3 linked regions of the Homo sapiens genome follow. The protein of the gene in region 3 interacts with the protein of the main gene of each other region in a biochemical or structural test. Each region holds a gene or a part of one and is shown on either strand. Other genes may lie near its edges.

The links.
Region 1: the proteins of BCL2L1 (region 3) and HRK interact in a biophysical measurement, tested with the Homo sapiens proteins (3 studies listed by BioGRID and IntAct, with this or other methods).
Region 2: the proteins of BCL2L1 (region 3) and PMAIP1 interact in a biophysical measurement, tested with the Homo sapiens proteins (3 studies listed by BioGRID and IntAct, with this or other methods).

Annotation. Positions count from the first base shown.
Region 1 is NC_000012.12:116,875,324-116,879,070, forward strand, and holds part of HRK (activator of apoptosis harakiri), read right to left. Parts: intron 3,222-3,747; exon of another isoform or gene 3,135-3,221; intron 1,478-3,134; exon of another isoform or gene 1,368-1,477; intron 1-1,367. UniProt on the Homo sapiens protein: Promotes apoptosis.
Region 2 is NC_000018.10:59,897,664-59,901,410, forward strand, and holds the start of PMAIP1 (phorbol-12-myristate-13-acetate-induced protein 1), read left to right. Parts: upstream 1-2,332; 5' UTR 2,333-2,514; coding exon 2,515-2,572; coding exon of another isoform or gene 2,573-2,702; intron 2,703-2,764; coding exon of another isoform or gene 2,765-2,919; exon of another isoform or gene 2,920-3,747. UniProt on the Homo sapiens protein: Promotes activation of caspases and apoptosis. Promotes mitochondrial membrane changes and efflux of apoptogenic proteins from the mitochondria. Contributes to p53/TP53-dependent apoptosis after radiation exposure. Promotes proteasomal degradation of MCL1.
Region 3 is NC_000020.11:31,716,249-31,719,995, reverse strand, and holds part of BCL2L1 (bcl-2-like protein 1), read left to right. Parts: intron 1-3,151; exon of another isoform or gene 3,152-3,375; intron 3,376-3,747. UniProt on the Homo sapiens protein: Potent inhibitor of cell death. Inhibits activation of caspases. Appears to regulate cell death by blocking the voltage-dependent anion channel (VDAC) by binding to it and preventing the release of the caspase activator, CYC1, from the mitochondrial membrane.

The sequences.
Region 1 (3,747 bases), on a different chromosome or scaffold from region 3:
TTTGTTACACAGAAGTAGTAACAAGAACAATATTTACTTATTGTCTGTCTCTTCCCACTAAAATGTGGGCTCCATGAAAGCAGGGAACTCTTATGTCTTGGTCCTTCCTGTATCCACAGTGCCCTATACACAGAAGGTACTCAATAATTAGCAGTTGTATAAGTGGAAGAACCTGAATTTGGGAAACAATAGTGACTATGTTGCATAGTTTCTTTTTTTATTTTTTATTTTTTTGTAACAGAGTCTCACTCATTCTGTCGCCCAGGCTAGAGTACAGTGGCGCGATCTCGGCTCACTGCAACCTCCGCCTCCTGGGTTCATGCAATTCTCCTGCCTCAGCCTCCCAAGTAGCTGGGACTACAGGCACACACCATCATGCCTGGCTAATTTTTGTATTTTTAGTGGAGATGGGGTTTCACCACATTGGCCAGGCAGGTCTCGAACTCCTGACCTCAAGTGATCCACCCGCCTCAGCCTCTCAAAATGCTGGGATTACAGGTGTGAGCCAGCATACCCGGCTGATGTTGCATAGTTTCTGATTCATTTAACACAGCACATAGTTATTGTACACCTACTATGAGACAAGCAAGTTGCCAGGGACTAGGGACACTGTGGGTTAGCTTTCTATTCCCGTGAAATCCTATCACAGGGACACTAGTGAGGACTACCAAGAAACGGAAGCCCCCTCCCCACCTCTCGTTATCTGCCTGTCTAAAAGGCTGACTTTTCAAAAACTCTAGAGTTATGATTGCCAAATCCAGCCAGCCCACATCTGGGGGTATATTTAATTATCCCCGGGTGTGGCTCTTTTCCATCCACAGCTCAGTCACTTGTACTCTGGCCTCTCACTATGCGAGCGGATGACTCCAGACAGAGACCATGTGGCAGGAAGGCTGCCTGGTTCTGCACATCTGGCCCCTTCCCGGGGGGTTCCTCCCCAACAGCTGTCCTCCTCGGGCTCCCTCGCCAAACAGAAGGCCAAGCTTTCAAGCTCTAAAAGTAATTCTGGCAGGGGTGCTGCGAGCTGGGAGGGAGGCCTGCGGGATGCGCCTCCAGGTTTAACCACTTAATCCCCAAAGTACCTGCCAAGAACCAGTTAGCATGTCTGGCTGGTGGGCCAGGCTGTCATTAATTCATTAAAGCAGGCTCCCGCTGGCCCATTATCTTCCTTGCCACTGACCACGTCGCCTTATGGGCCTGCGGAGTCCCCCTCTCTCCCCTTCCCCTGCTCCCAAGGCAGGATTCTACCCAGCCCTGGCCCCGACTCCCAGGCAGATTCCTCGGCTCCATTCTCTCTCCCTCCCTGCCCCCTCCCCAGGCACGCTTCTCCCTCCCTCCCTCCCACGCCTCCGCCAGCCAGCACTCACCATAAAGCGTCTTTTGTTCCCTCTCTCCTGTATCTTTGAGTATTGACTGGTTAAATCATACCCATCCTCCTCCAGGCCTCCCCAGCCTCAGAGGAGCCTCCCCTGGGGCTCTGGAAGAAAGGGAATTTCACTTGTACAGGAATTCACTGTGCACCAACCCGGTCTGCTTACTGCCCCTATCTCCTCTTCCCCCGCAAGTCATGGGGTGGGGGGCGCTGTGTGCCCTCAAAGACAGAAGCTGCAGTTCCACTGGGGATCACTTAGGTGGATGCTCTCTGCCTCGGCTTCCCCTTTGAATTAAAAGGAATGACACTGACCATTTCATGACATCCTCTGTTGAGTGAAGTTAAGAGACAGACACTGCACTGGACTTTTTTGAGACAAGAGTCTCACTTTGTCGCCTAGGCTGGAGTGCAATAGTGCGATCTCAGCTTACTGCAACCTCTGCCTCTGGGACTCAAGTGATCCTCCCACCTCAGCCTCCTGAGTACCTGAGACTACAGGTGCACACCACCATGCCCAGCTAATTTTTTTTTTTTTTTTTTGGTACAGACAAGGTTTCACCATGTTGCCCAGGCTGGTCTTGAACTCCTGGGCTCAAGTGATCCGCCCACCTTGGCCTCCCAAAGAACTGGGATTACAGGACTGAACCACTGGCCCGGCCTGCACTGGACACTTTAAATGAATGTTCTCTTATCATTCTCCCAATAACCCTGGAAGGATACAGCTCCAGTTTACAGATAAAGGTGCAGAGGTAATGGTTCTTTCTCAAGGTCACGCTGTCAGCAAATGGCTGGACACTTAAGAGTCTCTTAACCATTATTCTCTCCTGACCCTTCTGGCACTGACTTCCCGGGAGGGCAGGTAGGAGTGGTGTGGAATGGCCAGCAATAATAATGGTAAAATGTTGACTACCTTGGGAAAGAATGATAGTAAATGCACAATAATAATCATGATGGCTCACATGTATATCCACTGTTCTAGAGCTTTCCGTGTATGAATTCATTTAACCCCCTTAATAACGTGCCTATGCACTAAGTCTGGCTGGTGGGCCCCCATTTTTTGCCCCCATTTTACATATGGGAAAACTTAGTCTTGGGTTTTTGTTTCTGTTTGTTATTTTTTTAAAGGATGACTTCTGAGAAAAGTATTGCTGGTTCGCAGTAGAGACTCAAAACAAGTATGCTGGATATATGTATGTGTATATACACATATATGTTTTAAATTATTATTGAGATGGAGTCTCGCTCTGTCGCCCAGGCTGGAGTGCAGTGGTGTGATCTCAGCTCTTCTTGGCTGACTGTAACCTCCGCCTCCCAGGTTCAAGCGATTCTCCTGCCTCAGCCTCCCGAGTAGCTGGGATTACAGGTGTGCACCACCACGCTCAGCTAATTTTTGTATTTTTAGTAGAGATGGGGTTTCACCATGTTGGCCATGCTGGTCTCAAACTCCTGACCTCAGGTGATCCACCTGCCTTGGCCTCCCAAAGTGCTGGAATTACAGGCGTGAGCCAACCTGCCTGGCCTGTATGTTGAAAATATTGATTCTGCATATAGCGGAGCACACCCTTTAAACCTATGGGAATTGAAAGTGGTAGTTCCCACCCTATATGGCTGGCACAGGCCTCCCTCAAACACCTAAGGTACAGCTGTGAACATTCCCCTTTTTCTTTTAGGGTAGGGAAGGTGGAGAGCACCCCATATCCAGCATAGAACGCAACAGACTGTCTTCCTCCGGTGATTTTTCTTTCCCCTTTACTTAACTTACCAGAGCTGGGAAAAAATGAGTTTCCCCAAATTAAATCAAAAGCACAAGAAAGGCCGGAGCGGCTGGTATTCTGAGGTCAGATGTAGGCTGCAGGGAGAGAACTTGATCAGGGCCAGTGCAGGGAGCCCGAGCACTGAGAACCCGGCCTGGGAGCGCAGGAAGGCGGGTGGTGAGCAATTCTACGGGTGTCCCGAGGGTATGAGGGGCGGTGCTGCTGGGAAGCCGAGCGGGGCATCCTGAGGTCAGGGCGCCAGAGGCTGCAGAACCCTGGAGGGTGTGGCTGCAGGGGACGCCCGGGCGGGACAAGGCAGGTAGGAGAAGAACCCAGAGGTGTGGGAAGAGGGTGTCTCCGAGTCAGGGCGCAGCACGGAAGTAACTCTGGGGTAGAAGGCGAGGGCGGGGCGGGGGAAATAAACTCCACAGAGACAATAACCTGCTGCTGCCCCCCAACACCGACTCAAAACAGCGAAACTCCTGGCCGCCGCCCTCCCCTGCAGCGCAGGCCCCAGTTACCCAACTCCTCCCCTGCGCTCCGGCGCAGAGCGGCGCAATCTGCCCGCCCCGCCCGCAGCCTCCCCTTCCAGGCCCCGGGAGCATTCCCACCCCGACACTC
Region 2 (3,747 bases), on a different chromosome or scaffold from region 3:
TCGCCCGACTTCTTTCCGCTCTTTTCCTCCTTGCAAGCTGAATTTGCAATTCCCTAAAAAACAGAGTTGCCTAAGGTTTGTAGCCAGTGTGAGTCACATGACCAATTCTTTTCTAATGAAAATGTTAGAGGATGGGATTAACATACCTTTTATAGGTAAACAATGTTGTGATTCACTTTTTTTTTTTTTTTTTGGTGGTTGTTGAGTATATTCTCTGCATTTCAGGGTGCGTATTTGAACGACAGAAATTTAATAATTTATGCAACCAAAAAGTTAACGGTGTTCCTTATGTATTAGGTAAGTCAAAATGAGCCTGGAGTGGTTTTGAATTACCACTTGGGGATAATAGATTTCAAGGCAGCATCTCCAGTGTGCTTCCTGCGTCTTGTGATGATTCCTAAATTCTGTCCACTTTTACTCGTTTGTATATACCCCATTCAAAAACAGCCAACATCAGCCTCGAAACTATGTTGTTTAAACTCAAGAGCAGTTTTGTTCCATGCTTATATTGTTGTCCATACCTTCAGCAGGACCAAGCCATAAATAAATACTTGCTGGTTTGTGTTGACTGAATGATTTAAGATAAATAAACAACCTCAAATGCCTACTGAGGCCAGATAATGTAAATGGGAAAAGCAAACAGCGGGGAGTGTGGTGAACAGGAGCACCCTAGGTTCCTCTAAAGGGTGTGGCTTCGACCACACTTCAAACCTAGTTTGCACTTTTGGAAAATGGATCCCACGTTGTCAGAGATTCTGGTTTTCCAAGAGATGCTGGAATCTGGGTTTTTCATGCAATCCCTCAATGTTTAAAATGTTGGTAATCAATTCAAATTTTTACAATACATTTTGAAGGCCAATACTGTAAACCAAACTAAGCACTTCTAGGGAGCCCATGCAACGAATTTGCAATCTTTTCATTAAACAGCACAGCTAATATGAAAACACGCTTTTTTTTTCTTTTTCTTTTTTGAGACAGAGTCTTATTCCGTCACCCAGGCTGGAATGCAGTGGCGCGATCTCGGCTCACTGCAACCTCCGCCTCCCAGGTTCAAGCGATTCTCGTGCCTCAGCCGCCCAAGCAACTGGGACGACAGGCGTGCACCACCAAGGCCGGCTAATCTTTTGTATTTCAGTAGAGACGGGGTTTCACCATATTGGCAAGGCTGGTCTCGAACTCCTGGCCTCAAACGAACCACCCGCCTCGGCCTCCCAAAGAGCTGGGATTACAGGCGTGAGCCACCGCGTTCGGCGAAAACACACATTTTCTAAGAAACTGATTGCTGGGAAGGCTACAGTGGGTAAGAGCTCTTGCTCTCTGTGGGCCTGCCTGGTTCGGAATCAGGGCAGTGCTCTCTGCCTAAGTGAACTTGGGCAATTTTCTACAAACCTCAGTTTCTGCACCCGTAAAGTAGCAACGGTTGTTCTGAGGACGGAATGAGAAAATGCATGTCAAAGTCCTTAGCATGAAGCGGCTCTCAGTAACCGTTAACCACTCCTAATTACTCCTCTTCATAATAGTAGAATTACTCATGGCCTCGCCAAACATTATGCAAATAATTTCACGTTCCCAGGTAGCTCAGCCCTCCCACAAAAGATTTGAACGTTTTCCATATGATAACGATCCACTCGTTTTTGCTAAACATCCACAATGGGCGATATCGACCTATCTGGAAGGACACACACAAATCCCTTCCCAACTCAAACACGATGTTCTTTCTGGCTGGCACCAGGGCTTCTGTTTGCAGTGACTTCCTGGGACCCGGAGCTTTCTCACAGGGCCTCTGGCATCTCCTCTGCGGTGATTAAGGTTCTTCTCATTTCCCTTCCCTGTTACTGCCCATACTCTTCAAGTTCGAAAAGTTTCCTTTTCCAATCTCTTTTCTGGGCTTGTTTACCCAAGTCTCTAATTGCCAAGGCCTCTGGTCTCTCCCCACCCACAACGTTCCTCCTGGTTAAACCCTTCCCCTCCCGCCACTCCCAGCTCCCGCCACTCCCAGCTCCCGCCACCACTGCCGCTGACGACGTCCAGCGTTTGCAGATGGTCAAAGCCGACCCCCTTCTCCTCCCACCTCGTTTTGTAAGGAAGTAATTTCGGGGCCGAGCGCTCTGCGCCCCCCGCCGCGGGTCGGCGCCGCCGCGGGTCGGGAGCGTGTCCGGGCAGGTCGCGCTCAGCGGGGTACTTCCCCGCCCGCGTCCCGCGTCCGCTCCCATAACGCCGTCTGCGGGGCGGGGACAGGGGCGGGGACAGGGGCGGGCCGGGCGTCTAGTTTCCCTACGTCACCAGGGAAGTTCTCACTGGACAAAAGCGTGGTCTCTGGCGCGGGGATCTCAGAGTTTCCCGGGCACTCACCGTGTGTAGTTGGCATCTCCGCGCGTCCGGACACCCGATCCCAGCATCCCTGCCTGCAGGACTGTTCGTGTTCAGCTCGCGTCCTGCAGCTGTCCGAGGTGCTCCAGTTGGAGGCTGAGGTTCCCGGGCTCTGTAGCTGAGTGGGCGGCGGCACCGGCGGAGATGCCTGGGAAGAAGGCGCGCAAGAACGCTCAACCGAGCCCCGCGCGGGCTCCAGCAGGTACCGACCCGCTGGGGCCAGCGAAGACCCAGGCCGGGCGGGGTCGGGGCCGGGGTCGAGGTCTCGGCTGGGGCGGGCTCAGCTCGCCGGGGCTCAAGCACAGACTGCACGGGGGTCAAGGTCGGGCCAGGTCTGTGCCCTGGCGCGAGCCTTAGGGGCGCCTCCAGAAAGTTCTTCGGGGTTTTTCCCCAGGACCGGCGGGTACGGCGGGTACGGCGAGGGACCAAGCCGGATTTGCGATTGGGATGCAGCTGCGTTTCACCAGGGGCAAAAAGCTCCTTTCCTCCTCTCTTTCCTCCTCGCCACTTGCCCTTCCCCGGGGCCACGAGGAACAAGTGCAAGTGTAGGCGGCTGTCTCTAGGAGAAAGTCATTGTCGCGGCAGAAGGGGCAGGAGAGAGCCCCGGGGACCGCCTGGACTCCCAGCGCTTCCAGAGACGGCCCCACAAGGGCCCCTGTGTTCAGGAGCCTAGAAAATCTTGTAACATTTAAATAATCGATATTGTGGGAGGTGGGGATAGGAGAATAGGAGTTAGTCCGCTCCTTTTTTTCATTCATTCATTCGCACTCCCCACCCCGATACATACAGCTCCATCGTAAGTTTTCAGGCCAGCGCCCCGGCCCCATGCTTTTTCTAAATCTAAACAGAGAACCCAGTCACTGCCCAGAGCCCGAAGTCTGTGTGGGCCATACTGCTGTTGCATCAGACGATTATACGCCCCCCCCACCTTTTAAGTTACTTTCATTTTATAGAGCTCCTGGGGCGTGCGAAGGAAGTGGTGCATTGCAAATGTGACCATGCCTAAGTTGGTAACAGGCTGCTGTCTCTGGCGCTTGTGTGGGATGGAAAAAGCTTTGTCTACCTTTTGTGATGTCTTAGGATTCTGACCTTGTTTCTTTCTGAAGGATCTTACTTATGCATAGCACTTTCTGGTCCGACTTAATTCCCAAGAACAGGAAGCAGCACAAAGTCCCTCTTAAACTTGATTTGATTGATACTAATACATTTATAGGTGTGTAATGCAATTTTTAAAAAATTAAGGAAATGACCGGGAAGTATTTTCTGCCTTGTTTTCTACATTTTTGGTGAAAGGGATAACTTTTCCACTTAGAATTCAGGGCTTCCAGTGTCGGACGCTGAATGGTATTTGGTTTTTCTTTTAGAACTGTATATTAA
Region 3 (3,747 bases):
CCCTCCTGCTTTGATTCTCTTTTGGGGCAAATATTTGTTCAGCTGATTACAGGAGGGACAGGATTCCAGTACTGCAGACACACCCTCTGAGGCATCTCCAAGTAGGGATTGAGGCTGCTTGCCCACTTTGCCTGACTATTGTCTTTGGCCAGTGGTCCTAATACCAGGTGGGTTGTTGCCAGCTATAAACAAAAGGCAGTCTGGGAGAGGTGCCTGGTCTGCTAGCCAGCCTCTGCAGAAGGCTACCCCTACCAGAGAATTGCCAGCTGCCCAGTGGTGCATATGAAAGAGGTCTTAGACACAGCAACTCTGGGTAAGTTTATTAGATCTCCATGGGGTTGAAATTCCATCTTCCATCTCTTTGCTTAAGAATCATCAGAGCCTGTTGGACAACATACCACATGTCACTTCCTCTTGGTGAACAGAGGGGATGTGTGTGGAAGAGCCAGTTATATCAGAACCATTTCTGAGCACACATTCTCTCCCTAAGGCCAGGGAGTAAAGAACATTTGACTCAGGATCCTTTGAGCCTGGGTAGAAGGTACCCGCCCCCTTCCTCTCAGGTATTATCCTGTTCCAAGCTGCACCGACTGGCTACTGTGGTGGCATCGGGTAATTATCCTGGAGACTGCGGCTGGGAGATCCTTAAGGGTAGGAGTTATGGGCTATTCTACTCAGGGCTATGTTCTAAATTTAGCATCCCTACAGGAAAGGGGAAGGAAATTAGTCTTTATTGAGTACCTGTTAAGTACTAGGCACTGTGTTAGGTCCTCTACTTATGCAACCAGTGTTTCTTGAGCATCTACTGTGAAGCTAGCAGTGTACTAGGTGCTGGCCATAAGCCACGCATGGTACCTTCCTTCATGGAAACGGCATGCTGTTTCATATATTCTACAGTAACCTTCCAAGGAAGGTGAGTTTATTCCCAGTTTACACATGAAGGTCTTTGTGCCTAAGTGACTGACCCCAGGTGTCCCTCAGCCAGTTAAGTGTCTGAATGAGAATTTACACCAAGGTTGGCATAATTCTAAAGCCAACACTTTTCATCCTATCAAGTTGTCCAGGGAGTAATAAAGTGACCTAGACATGCTGGCCCAGAAAGCCAGAGATGCTGTTGGGCCAAGCAAACCATGCCTGTGAAGGTGCTCACTCTGGACTGATAACTGGCTTTGTTCAGGTAGCTATGGGAAGGATAGTTGGCAGTAGCAGGTTCCCAGAGGCGTGTTGGTAGCCTCAGATTCTGGCACTGGTAAAACTCAGACATGGCAGGTTTCAAGTGGGCATCAGGGTTTTGCCCAGAGTGAGCTGCTTATTAATTTTTTCTTTTTTTTTTTTTTTTTGAGACGGAGTCTCGCTCTTGTTGCCTAGGCTGGAGTGCAGTGGCGCGATCTCAGCTCACTGCAGCCTCTGCCTCCCGGGTTCAAGTGATTCTCCTGCCTCAGCCTCCCAAGTAGCTGGGATTACAGGCATGCGCCACCACACCTGGCTAATTTTGTATTTTTAGTAGAGATGGGGTTTCTCCATGTTGGTCAAGCTGGTTTCAAACTCCCAACCTCAGGTGATCCGCCTGCCTCAGCCTCCCAAAATGCTGGGATTACAGGCATGAACCACCGTGCCTGGCCCCGGCCAATTTTTTCATTGTTAAAACCCTCTCAGGCCCTGCCAATAGATGACAGTGGTGTGCGTGTGGGGAGAAGGTGGCCTGCCCCAGGTATCTCTACTTAGTGGTGGAGTGATGCTTCAAGGACTGAAAGTGTAGACCCTTAGCCAGATTACTGCCTGCCTGGAGTCACCTGATGAAATGCTGAACCTGTTCGGCTGTCTTGTCCATCTGTCTCTCCCGCCTGTAAAATGGAATAATGATAGCCAGCTGCCATAGCTTGACTCGAGTAAAGGATCTAGCACAAAAGCCCTTCTCCTGCCATAATTGTAGGGTGGAAACCCTTTAATGAATGGGCAGCTTCCCTCAGAGAACTGACTCTTCCCCCTAGAGTTTCTCCTTGAGAAACAAAGTCCCTGTGATACTTTCCTGGAATGTTGTATACATGACCTTCCCCGAAGGGACACAAGTGTTTCTGGTGCTTTCCAATGGGAATGTGGGAAGGGACCCAGGTGGGCCTTGCCACTTTGGGATTGCTGTCCCTGAAGAAATCCCTTAGCCTGATAGAAACGTAATTGTTGGGAGCAATGAACTGTGTTGGGGGAGAAAACATAACTTGGCCTTTCTTAAGCTGTATGGCTCAGTGGTCTGAGTTTCTGTAGATCTCTTATTGCCTAATGTGGCTTCTTCAGATGGATGTATGCTTAGTTGAAGCACCTCAGCTCCCTTTGCAGATAGTGGCAGTTCTGTGGTTTTCTTAGGGAAACCCCATTAGAAACCCCAAATGTGGAAATTTTTAGTAATCTCATTCGGGTCCCAAAATTAAGTAGAAGTGTCTCAGGGGCTCCCCCTTGAAACACCTACTTCTTCTGAGTGTACATTTGAGGTTGCTCTTAAAATTCTGTTACCATCACAGGGTTTTCCAGACTTCCTAGGAATAATTTCCCCAGTAGCCCCACAGAGCCCTTTAGCTTCTGTCGAAAATTACCCGGGTATTTTTTCAGGGGGCTCCAATGGAACCTGGAGGGTTTTCTTGACTTTTGTATGGGTGTCCCCAGATTTGTTTGGGCTGCATGAAACAGCAGTTGTTATCTCTGTCCCTTCCCCCAGCAGATATCTGTCCTGAGGCCAGTGGGCTTGAGCGTCCTCCTCTGTGTCCAGTCTCCCTGGTTTTGCCAGTGCCCTCAGCCTTCCATCATGGGGCTTTCTTGAAGCAACTGTGGTTTTGCCTGAGTTTAATGTGGATAGACATAGGGGTAATTCCCAGTGTACTGCTTTTCTACGGAAGTATAATCTCCTACTGCCTTAATTAAGCAGAGGCCCTGTCCCCACCCAACCTCCAACCTAATTCCACAGAGTCCTCCCTAAGGACTCCCTCTTTTTTCTTTGAAGGAGTCACTCTACTCCTGGATCCTCTTCTCTTCTGCCCCTCTATCCGACAGTCTGTCTTCCTTGTTCCCAGTTGGCAGACCTGAGTCAGGCAATCCCACTGGGTCTTTTTGTTTAGCCTGGGGAAGAGAAGACCCAGGAGAATATCACCAGCTTCAGATATCTGAAGGAAGAGGGACTGAGTCTTTTTTTATTGGTGTGGTACCTGGCAAAACTTGGATAAATGAAAAGAAGTTAACAGTTGGTAGAGCTTAAATTATGTGCAGAGAAGACATTTCTAACAGATTTACTCTGTCCTAGATTTAGGAGCTCCTCAGGGTGGAGGCCACATCTTGTCCATGCTTGTTTCCTCAGCACTGAGCAGAGGCCTTGGGCATAGCAGATACCTAATTGAAGAGAAACCCACTAAATTTCTGAAGAAACAGACCCTTGTCAAGCCAGAATAACAATAATGGGAGTGGCTATTTACCTAATAATTCATTCGTTGAGTCAAACAATGTTTATTGAGCTCCTACTGTGTACCATACTGGGAGTATGGCAGTAAACAAAAGTAAGCAAAACTAAGTTTCTGTCCTCATGGAGCTCACATTCCAATGAGGAGTGACAGGCAATAAATATATAATTACATGTTTATATCAGATGATTGTACATGCTATGAAGAAAATAAAGCAGGTTGGGGCATAGGGCATGTCTAGCAAGGGAGGGTGGGGCTGCAGTTTTAAAAGAGTGATCAAAGAAGGTGTAAGGGAGAAAAAAAT